2 separate regions of the Homo sapiens genome follow, and region 1 is linked to region 2. The links come from fine-mapping of genetic effects on gene expression. Tissue or cell type: monocytes. Region 2 holds a variant in brackets; the other region holds the start of a gene. All regions are shown on one strand. Distances are between the middles of the regions.

Evidence for each region. PIP is the estimated chance that this variant, and not a neighbour inherited with it, causes the effect. A credible set is the group of variants that fine-mapping cannot tell apart.
Region 1: CD180 starts here. The variant in region 2 is the best candidate, but not a certain one, in a credible set for the expression of CD180 in monocytes (Quach 2016, PIP 0.69).

What each region holds. Positions count from the first base shown.
Region 1 is chr5:67,195,013-67,199,167 of GRCh38, forward strand. It overlaps CD180 (CD180 molecule), which reads right to left and starts at 1,787. Exons shown (of 3, transcript NM_005582.3): 1 at 1,540-1,787. The coding sequence starts at 1,629. RefSeq lists an enhancer at 611-760.
Region 2 is chr5:67,146,436-67,150,789 of GRCh38, forward strand. MAST4 (microtubule associated serine/threonine kinase family member 4) reads left to right here. Exons shown (of 29, transcript NM_001164664.2): 24 at 2,954-3,154. Among named protein-coding and RNA genes, the nearest start is that of CD180, 48 kb to the right of the region's middle. The variant A/C (reference allele first, on the strand shown) is at 2,415.

The DNA.
Region 1 (4,155 bases), 48 kb after region 2:
CACAGGAAAGGCCATGAGAGGACACAGAGAGAAGATGGCCATCTGCATGCCAGGGAGCGAGGGTGCAGAAGCAGCAAACTCTGCCAACACCTTGATCTTAAAATTCCAGCCTCCAGAACTGTGAGACAATCAATTTCTCTTGTTTAAGTCACCTAGTCTATGGTATTCAGGGTTTTTTTGGTTTGTTTTTGTTTTTTGGTGTATTTTTGGTTTGTTTGTTTTAAGACAGAGTCTTGCTCTGTCGCCAAGGCTGGAGTGCGGTGGCACAATCACGGCTCACTGCAACCTCTGCCTCCCGGGTTTGAGTGAGTCTCCTGCCTCAGCCTCCCGAGTAGTTGGGATTACAGGCATGTGCCACCATGCCCAGCTAATATTTGTATTTTTAGTACAGATGGGGTTTTGCCATGTTGCCCAGACTGGTCTCGAACTCCCAGTCTCAAGGCATACACCCACCTTGGCCTCCCAAAGTGCTGGGATTATAGGCGTGAGCCACCACGCCTGGCCCAGTCTGTGGCATTTGTTATGACAGCCCAAGCAAAGCAACACACACCTTCCCAGCCTTCATTTCTCATTGGCATGATGCCTCCTCTTGGCCTGCTGCTGATTCCATCCTAATGCCAGACCAACAAGGCTCTGCTCACCCAGCTCTGAGCCTTACCCCAGTGCTGGCTTTGCTCTGCTCTTCCTGATCCTCTGATCTCCTTCTAGTCCTGCCCCAGGGCAACTCCACATCTGGCTATTCCTGGCTCTTACTCTTCTTTTTACCTCAACCCAGACCAGCAGCTCACCAAGCCACCAAGACTCATGGTTCCTCCTGTATGCAGCCCTTGTCTGACAGGCCACGTGGTATTGATCACTTGTGGGGTCAGAGAAAGTGGGAGGAAGTTTGAAGCATTTTAGAGGATGGCAAGAGACGGAGGCCCTTCTCCTTTTTCTCTCATTATCCCCTCCAAGAACTTCCCACAGGTTGATAAATATTGCTATGGTCCAAAACAGAAGGTGCAATTTGGCTCTATTCTCAGATTTTCCTCCTATGGGTTAGTAAAACAGATGGAAGGCTGTCCAAGTCCAAGAGAGAGCCAGACTCATTCAGAGTGATCTTTTCAATGCTCGAAAACCTGGCACAGCGCTGTCTTTACTAATTCTCACCCTGAGAGGAGACCAAAGGACTCATTGGGATAGAGGCCATGTGAGAGTGGGGATGTTAAACCAACAGCTCCCCTAGGTTGAGGCAGGTTTAGGGGTCTGCTTTGTGCACACAGACCCTATTAATATCTTATGACCCACTTGGGATTATTTGGGTGGAATTGTTTGAAGAGGAGAAAAATTCTCTTTGCTTCCTATTAAGATGCCACCAGATGATCCCCTGGCAGAGTTCTTTGGCTCCTTTCTCACAATAATGAAAAAATTATATATACACCTTATTTCCTTTTTAAAGACACTAGATATTGGGATGCCAAGGCTCAGATTGGACTGCGTGCTAAATCTCAAAATTTTCAGACAGTTTAATCTGCATAAAGACAAACAGTTTGGACTCACCTCAATGCACATCTGATCCCAGGAGGTGATGACTTTACAGCCGGCAGAAAACAGCACCACCCAAAAGAAGCAGCTGACGTCAAACGCCATCACAGGCTAGGATTGCTTGGTGGGTTTACCTAATGCTTGGAGCTGAGAAATGGAATCAAACTGTGAAGGCCCTGGCAATTTGGCAGCCAGAGAGGTACTCAGAAGGGTGATCTTGGAACAAGAAATGCTGTTGACTGCTCAGCATTCTGTGGCTCTGTGCTGGAAAAAAAAAAAAAAAAAAAAAAGGAAGTCCCTTTTGCATACCACCCATCTTTGCCAAAAATAACTGAGGACCCAACCCCAGAATGGCCCGTTGCATTTCCTGGCACTGAACATGAATCAGTTGTGCAGTCCTTTTGGGCTGATCACACAGACTCTCATTGTGATGGTTCCAATTGACTTTATGCCAACTTCAAGCATTTGGCCAACTCCAACAGCTTCTGGTCCTTTTCCCCGAGAGAGGCTGTGGAAGCTCTACTCACCAAGGAGGCCACTTTCTTAGTTGTCCTAGGTGAGTGAATAGAAGAGGTGTCAGAGAACATGGAAGGGCAGAGCACTCTGCAGGGGCAGACTGAAGAACTGAGCCCTTCAGTGGCACCTGCTGAGCTGGGAACTGGAGCAGGAGGGAGCAGGCTTGAGAGTGTATCTGCTCCTTGAGCCTCAGCTGCTGCCTTGGCCACCTTGTCCATCCCCACCTCTGGTCTTCGTATAGGGGGAAGATTACTTCATCTCTTGACCTGGCGGTTCAGGCTTGTTAAAGCAGTTGGGGTGGACTCTCTTGTTCCCTCCTAACCTGGCCTGGGGAAGTAGGGGACACTGCCATAGATAGAGCAGCCTGGCTAAAGGAGAGTAGAGTTAGGGATGCCAGCCTTGGCTCTATTTCTTCTTAGAAATAGCTTTGAAGCAGGATTACAATTACCCTTATTATGGAGCAAGATGTGGCAATGATTAAAGAAAGCCAAAGTTCAAACATTCCTCAATAGGCTGCATTTAGCTACCTGTTCTGTCTGTTCTTCAACCCTCTGGCATACAGGATATATTTGGTGTTACTGTTCTCCCACTCCATTTCCAAGAGCCCAGTTCTTAGTATCAGAGTTCACAATGACTTAACTACTGCTACTACTACTACTACCACCACCACCACCACCACCACCTCTACAGTATTACTATGATGAATCAAATGACTATAGTATCTGCCATTTATTGAGTCCTTACTATGTGTCAGACACTGGGTCAGGTTTAATGCAGTTTTTTGCTGCATTTTCCTATCCTCGAATATTTCCATATATTCTATAAGAGAGATATTATTATTTCCCTCATTTTATAGATGTAGAAACTGATGCTTAAGAGAAATTAAATGATCTCTCCAAGCCACACAATTAGAGAGTGGTAGATTAGGGCTTCAGATCCAGAAAATCTCACTGCAGAGACTATGCTGCTACTCTTCACAGTTTAAGAAAGGACTTTGCCTCCTGAAGGAGCTGAAGAGTAGATGGGGCGAAGAATGTTGTTCATCTGGAGATTTCAGAAAAGATGCTAAAAAGCAGAGGGGATTGGAGGAAATATGTACTTGGCAGTCTGCTAGGCCTGCTACACATATTTGGGCTTTTCCTGGTCACCCTTAAAATGCCATCTTCATCAACAAAATCATCTCTGAAGATGCTATCAGCAAGACACAGTCTAAGCAAACCCAGACCAATGACGGACCACCTTGCTTCAAATAAGACATCCATCAGTGTATATTAGGAAGAGCTGAGAACTGGGAAGAGTCTAGTGGTAGACCGCAGATCCTTGCTTACCAACTGAGTGACCTTGGGCAAGTCATTTCACTTCTCTAAGTCCGTTTTCCCATCTGAAAAACAAGAATTATAATTCCTCTTCTGCCTACATCACAGAGTAATTATGAGGATCAAATAGGATCATGTATGTGAAAATGCTTTTCTTATCTTAAAGTCCCACATAAATATGCAGAATGTGAGGCAAAGACTGAGTAACGAATTCCAATGTCGTGTAAATATCACTCTCAGGAAATTGTCTCCTGCCCCAGAGATGTTGAAAGGCATATTACTTTCCTTCTTAAAGAAAGGTCTGATGGCTCAGTTAAGGCCATCAGATTTTGTCATTTTCTTAAGCTATATCATTTGCATATGATTTACATGTGTTTGCATAATGAATTCAAAAGACTCACTGCAAGTATATAAGAGTAAAATAAAATGAATGAATATGAGTGACCTTCTGCCACGGTATTCAAATCACATATTCAGGGCATAATACCCTGAAATATGAAATAGATTAAAATGTAAACTATTGCAAACAGATGAGAAGATAGGTTTTAGAGTTTAGAGGCAAGAATGAAACCTTATTTGGTCCCAGAATTTGGATATAAAGAACCACATCCTCTTACAGGTCACCTCATCCAAATGATGTTCATGCCTGAATTCTCTCCTACACACCCCTAATTCACCCCTCTCTGTAGACAAAAACATACTCTCTGAATTATTTTTCAGTCTATTATGAAATGCCTCAGGTGACAGAAAACTCATCATCCCTCACCCCCCAATGGTTTTGGCCAAGTTTGACTGTTTA
Region 2 (4,354 bases):
GCATTTATGCTTTTTCAAAAAATGAGAGATGTATATGGCTTAGAATTGCTGTAATGAATGTTTTCATTAAGCTACGTTCAATATGCTGTATTGATAACCATGAATGATTCCAAGATTTTTCGTCAACATTTTTTAAACTAACTGAATATTCATAGTGTAAGCTTTTTTTTAATCATTTCAGGAAAAATTTTATGGGCTGGATTTATTTCAACCTCACTAAGAAGTTTGGATCTGTGAAGCTTCACATGTGCTTATAGTTTATTGTGGGGGAAAATAATGTTGGATTTTCTTCTCTGTCTTCACTTCAGTTCTGTTTTCATGTTGCGTAATTCCACTTATCCTAATCATAAAGCCAAGAGAACAGCAATGAGGAAGTAGTGTAAAGGCAACCTATTAGACTAAGATGCCTGACCATCTCTAGTTCATGCTGATGCTCAGATCATATGTAGATATCTTGGTATTTTCTATTCCTGGTTACAAAGGCCTTTATCTGGTTCTTAGTTACCTTACTCTGAATAGAGTATATTCACCTCCATTTAAAATTTTTTTCTTAATATAGTGAACTGTTTACTATCTCTTAGTCTCCTCAGCCTGCTCACTACCGGAAAGGTAGGAGGGGAAGGGAGGGGAATCGTGTCTAAGCATTTGATTGATTACTTTCATAATTAAAAAAAAAATTCACCTAGGTCCTGCCATGCATTTTGATTAATAGATTCACACCATCTTTCTCTCTCTCTCTCTCTCCCCCATACGCACACTAAAAATAATCAAAGGCCTTGGGGGCTGTGCAGAATAGAGAGATGAGCTGATTTGCTTATAGCCAAGGGTAATTAGGAAGTCTGAAAACCGTGACTGTAGTAAAATTAAATTTGTTGATTTTTATATTGCTCCACCACCAAAAAGAAGGAACCCTTGACATTTAGAGAACATTAAAGTGACATTATCTACCATTGGCAGAAAAGAAGCTCACGCTTATATGCAGTGCTGCAAAATAAGATGGCAGAGGCAAGAGGGAGAGGTGACACAAGGTTGTATATCCACACTCTGGCATTTAGGGAAGTACAACTTTATACATGTTTCTCTTTTATCATGACTACATTGTGTTTGAAGCCATGAAAAATAAACGTCTTGAAGTCTTAGATGTAGGGGTCAAACGTATCCAACAATTACTCATTGTAAAGAGATTCAGCTTTTCATTTTATACTTGTCAGTGATCCCATCCAAACCAAATTACAAAGAAGGAAGTGTGTACCTTACTCAATGGGAAGCTTAAGTTTTGTGAGATGAGATTTATTACTTGTGAAGCAGTTTTTATCAAGACCTTCAGTAGCTGATTTCTGTAAGAGAATGGAATATTCTGTTAAATGAGAATGAGTTTAGCATATAGGAGTAAAAACATTGATATTTGCCTTAAGGTTATCTCCCTTTGTTGGTCAGATGGGTGTTATGTGGAAGTCCATGAATCTTTTCCTGTACATATGCACAGTAGATGACCACAAAGTGTGCTATGACTAAAGCTGCTGTCCAAGTTCCCAGCTACCCTTAGCCTAGACCACAGCTGTAAGATCTGAACTTTGTCCATGAGCGTGGGCCAAACTACAACCATACCACTGAGTGGTATATAGACAGCAGTGTAAGAGAAATGCTAGTTGAGTCTAAGTCTAACTCTTTCCCAGGCAAACAGTGTCATATGGTCAGCACTTCGAAATGTGCTGGCCGCTCTTTCAAAGGATCATTTATAGTGGTGTTAATACTCTGCATGGATTGTATCTCTAAAGGTGATGAGACAGTTGATGATTTTTAAGCACATGGGGCTTATAATGTAGCATGTAGAAGTAAAATGAGATGAGCATTTTCTCTCCTGGATGGACAAAAATGTGCTATCAATGATGTTTTTAAAGAAAAACACGATAGAAAACCGATAACCTGGGAAAGAAAAAGTAGGACAAATCAAAAGGAATAGCTGTTCAGCTTCCTTCTGGGGGACTCAAAATGTCACCCTGCTGCAGAGCTTTCTTTACTCTCGGCCTCTGCATTCACCAGACCAGGGTCAGTGATGTTCCATTTCTGCACCCCCCTCCATATTTATCCTCTCTTACGCTCCGTTGTTGAGGGAAGCCCTAATTTTTTTTAAGTTAAAAATAACTCCAGTTTATATTAAAGATTAACAAAATTAAAAGTAAAGAAGGTGTGGTTTAGAGGGGAGAGGAAATAGCATGAGGGAGGATCAGCATATGATACACTGGATTAAAAGCCAGCAGGATGAAGTGAACTTGAGTAATGGAGGGAGTAATATCCTTTGTCTTGCTTGTCCTTTGAAATGTACAGGGAGCTTAGAATGAAAGGAGGCATATGGCCTGAGAAGTGAGAAGAGACACTTTAGGCACTTTTCTATCAGTTACTTGCCTCAGCCT[A/C]GTATGAGGTGTGTTCTAACAGCACAGACGTAAGTCTACAGGGAGTGATGAAAAAATGTCCACAGGTCAAAATTATAATTAACAGCATTGATAATGATAATCATCAGTATCATAAGGTAATCACAGTATGAAGTGGGCGGCCATGGTGTTTGGGAGGTAATATTTGATTCATGGCACAGCCTTTCATGGTATGGGGGGGGTAGGGGCACCAGAATTATCTCTGCAAGGTTTCAAAAATATAGATTGTTGAAAGAAACTAATTCCTCTGGTTACATGGAGTCATGGATTGAGAATTAGCAGACTTGTGTACAGGTAGAATGAAGCCTGAATAGATGCCTCTTCCATCTCTTCCTCCTCCACGTCACCTTTCTCAAAGCAATCACATGTTGTTAATGTTCGCCTGACACCGTCTGGACTTACTGGCCACATAGGAGTATGTTCTCTGGCGTTTACTCTTCCTGCTGTCTCTCTCTTCCCGTCTTCCCACCTCTCCTATCCTGGATTTTCCTGAATGTGTTTATCCCTTCTTCTTTGTACAGTTGGCAGTTTTTCAGAGCACTTGGATCAGATAAATGGACGAAGCGAGTGTGTGGACAGTACAGATAATTCCTCAAAGCCATCCAGTGAACCCGCTTCTCACATGGCTCGGCAGCGATTAGAAAGCACAGAAAAAAAGAAAATCTCGGGGAAAGTCACAAAGTCCCTCTCTGCCAGTGCTCTTTCCCTCATGATCCCAGGAGGTAGAGAGATACTACTTGCATGAAATTGTGTGATTTGTGCATGTGGTCCCATCCCTCCTCTCCCAATTTGGAATGCTGAATGAGATGCAAGATTGCTTGAAGTAATAACGGGTCATGTCCCAGGACAGCTCTTGAGAGCTTCTGCCTGCAGACTCTGAATTCTTCCTGCAGGATTTGTAGGGCCGCCAAGGAGCATTTTGGCCTATTTCATCTCACTTTCTGCATCAGGGGTACAAGAGAGGCTTCCTTCCCATGAAAGCTTGTTTCTGTTTTGTTTCCTTTCGTTTTCTTTTCTCCCTCCAAGTTAAATGATAAATTTTCCTTCCTTGAATAATTTTTTTTCTCTAGAGTATGTATAATTTATACACTTTATAGAGCTGTTTACAACATTTGTGTTGGAAAGCTAAGTATATAGTTTTTCTCATCTAATTAATGAGGAAAATAGTTAAGCTTTTCATTTCTGGAGATAGAGTCACAGACAGCATTGAAATTCTAGGTTTTCCCAACCCTGTCAGTTGAGCTATGCTTCCTCCTACTGGTAGCAAATCATCTTCTGCCCTGTTTTGGAAAACTGGGCTTAATTAAGGTTTTGTTGAATTGTAGTATTTTCCCACAAACTGGTTTTGCCACTACTGATCACTAACTCTGTAGTAATCCCACTGGCAGAAATGAAATATACACCCTGATGGTTGTGATATCACTCAAATGACAGCAAGAGAGTAGAATGGGACTCGAATTATATTGCAGATGGCTTGTTTTTGGAAGAAAACAGATCATGTATAAAAGGCATTGTTTATGTTTTTGAAGCTTCATATTTGTGCAGAAAGCAATTTGACATAAACAAATGCTCATTTGGGAGTAGTGCTCAATCTAGCAGATTCAGTTTCTGGGAGGTGTCCTGTTTAGCACCATAAAACAAACACCTGTATCCCTAGTCTGTGTGACTCTTCATAAGCTGAAGATGATGGTCCTGGTGCAGCTGCACAGATGGGAAGGTAAGTTGGATATGGGCCAGTGCAGTTTTGAAAGCTGGTTAGGAAGCCCGTACTTTGGTAGAACAAGGAAATTATTTGATTTGGGGAGATAAGGGAGACCATCAGAAGGTAAAGAAGTGGGGGCCTGGCCTTTCAGCAGTTTGGGATCTATGTGTGTCCACAGTGACCTCCTCCCACCTGCATGTCTTGAAGTTCCCTGCCTGCC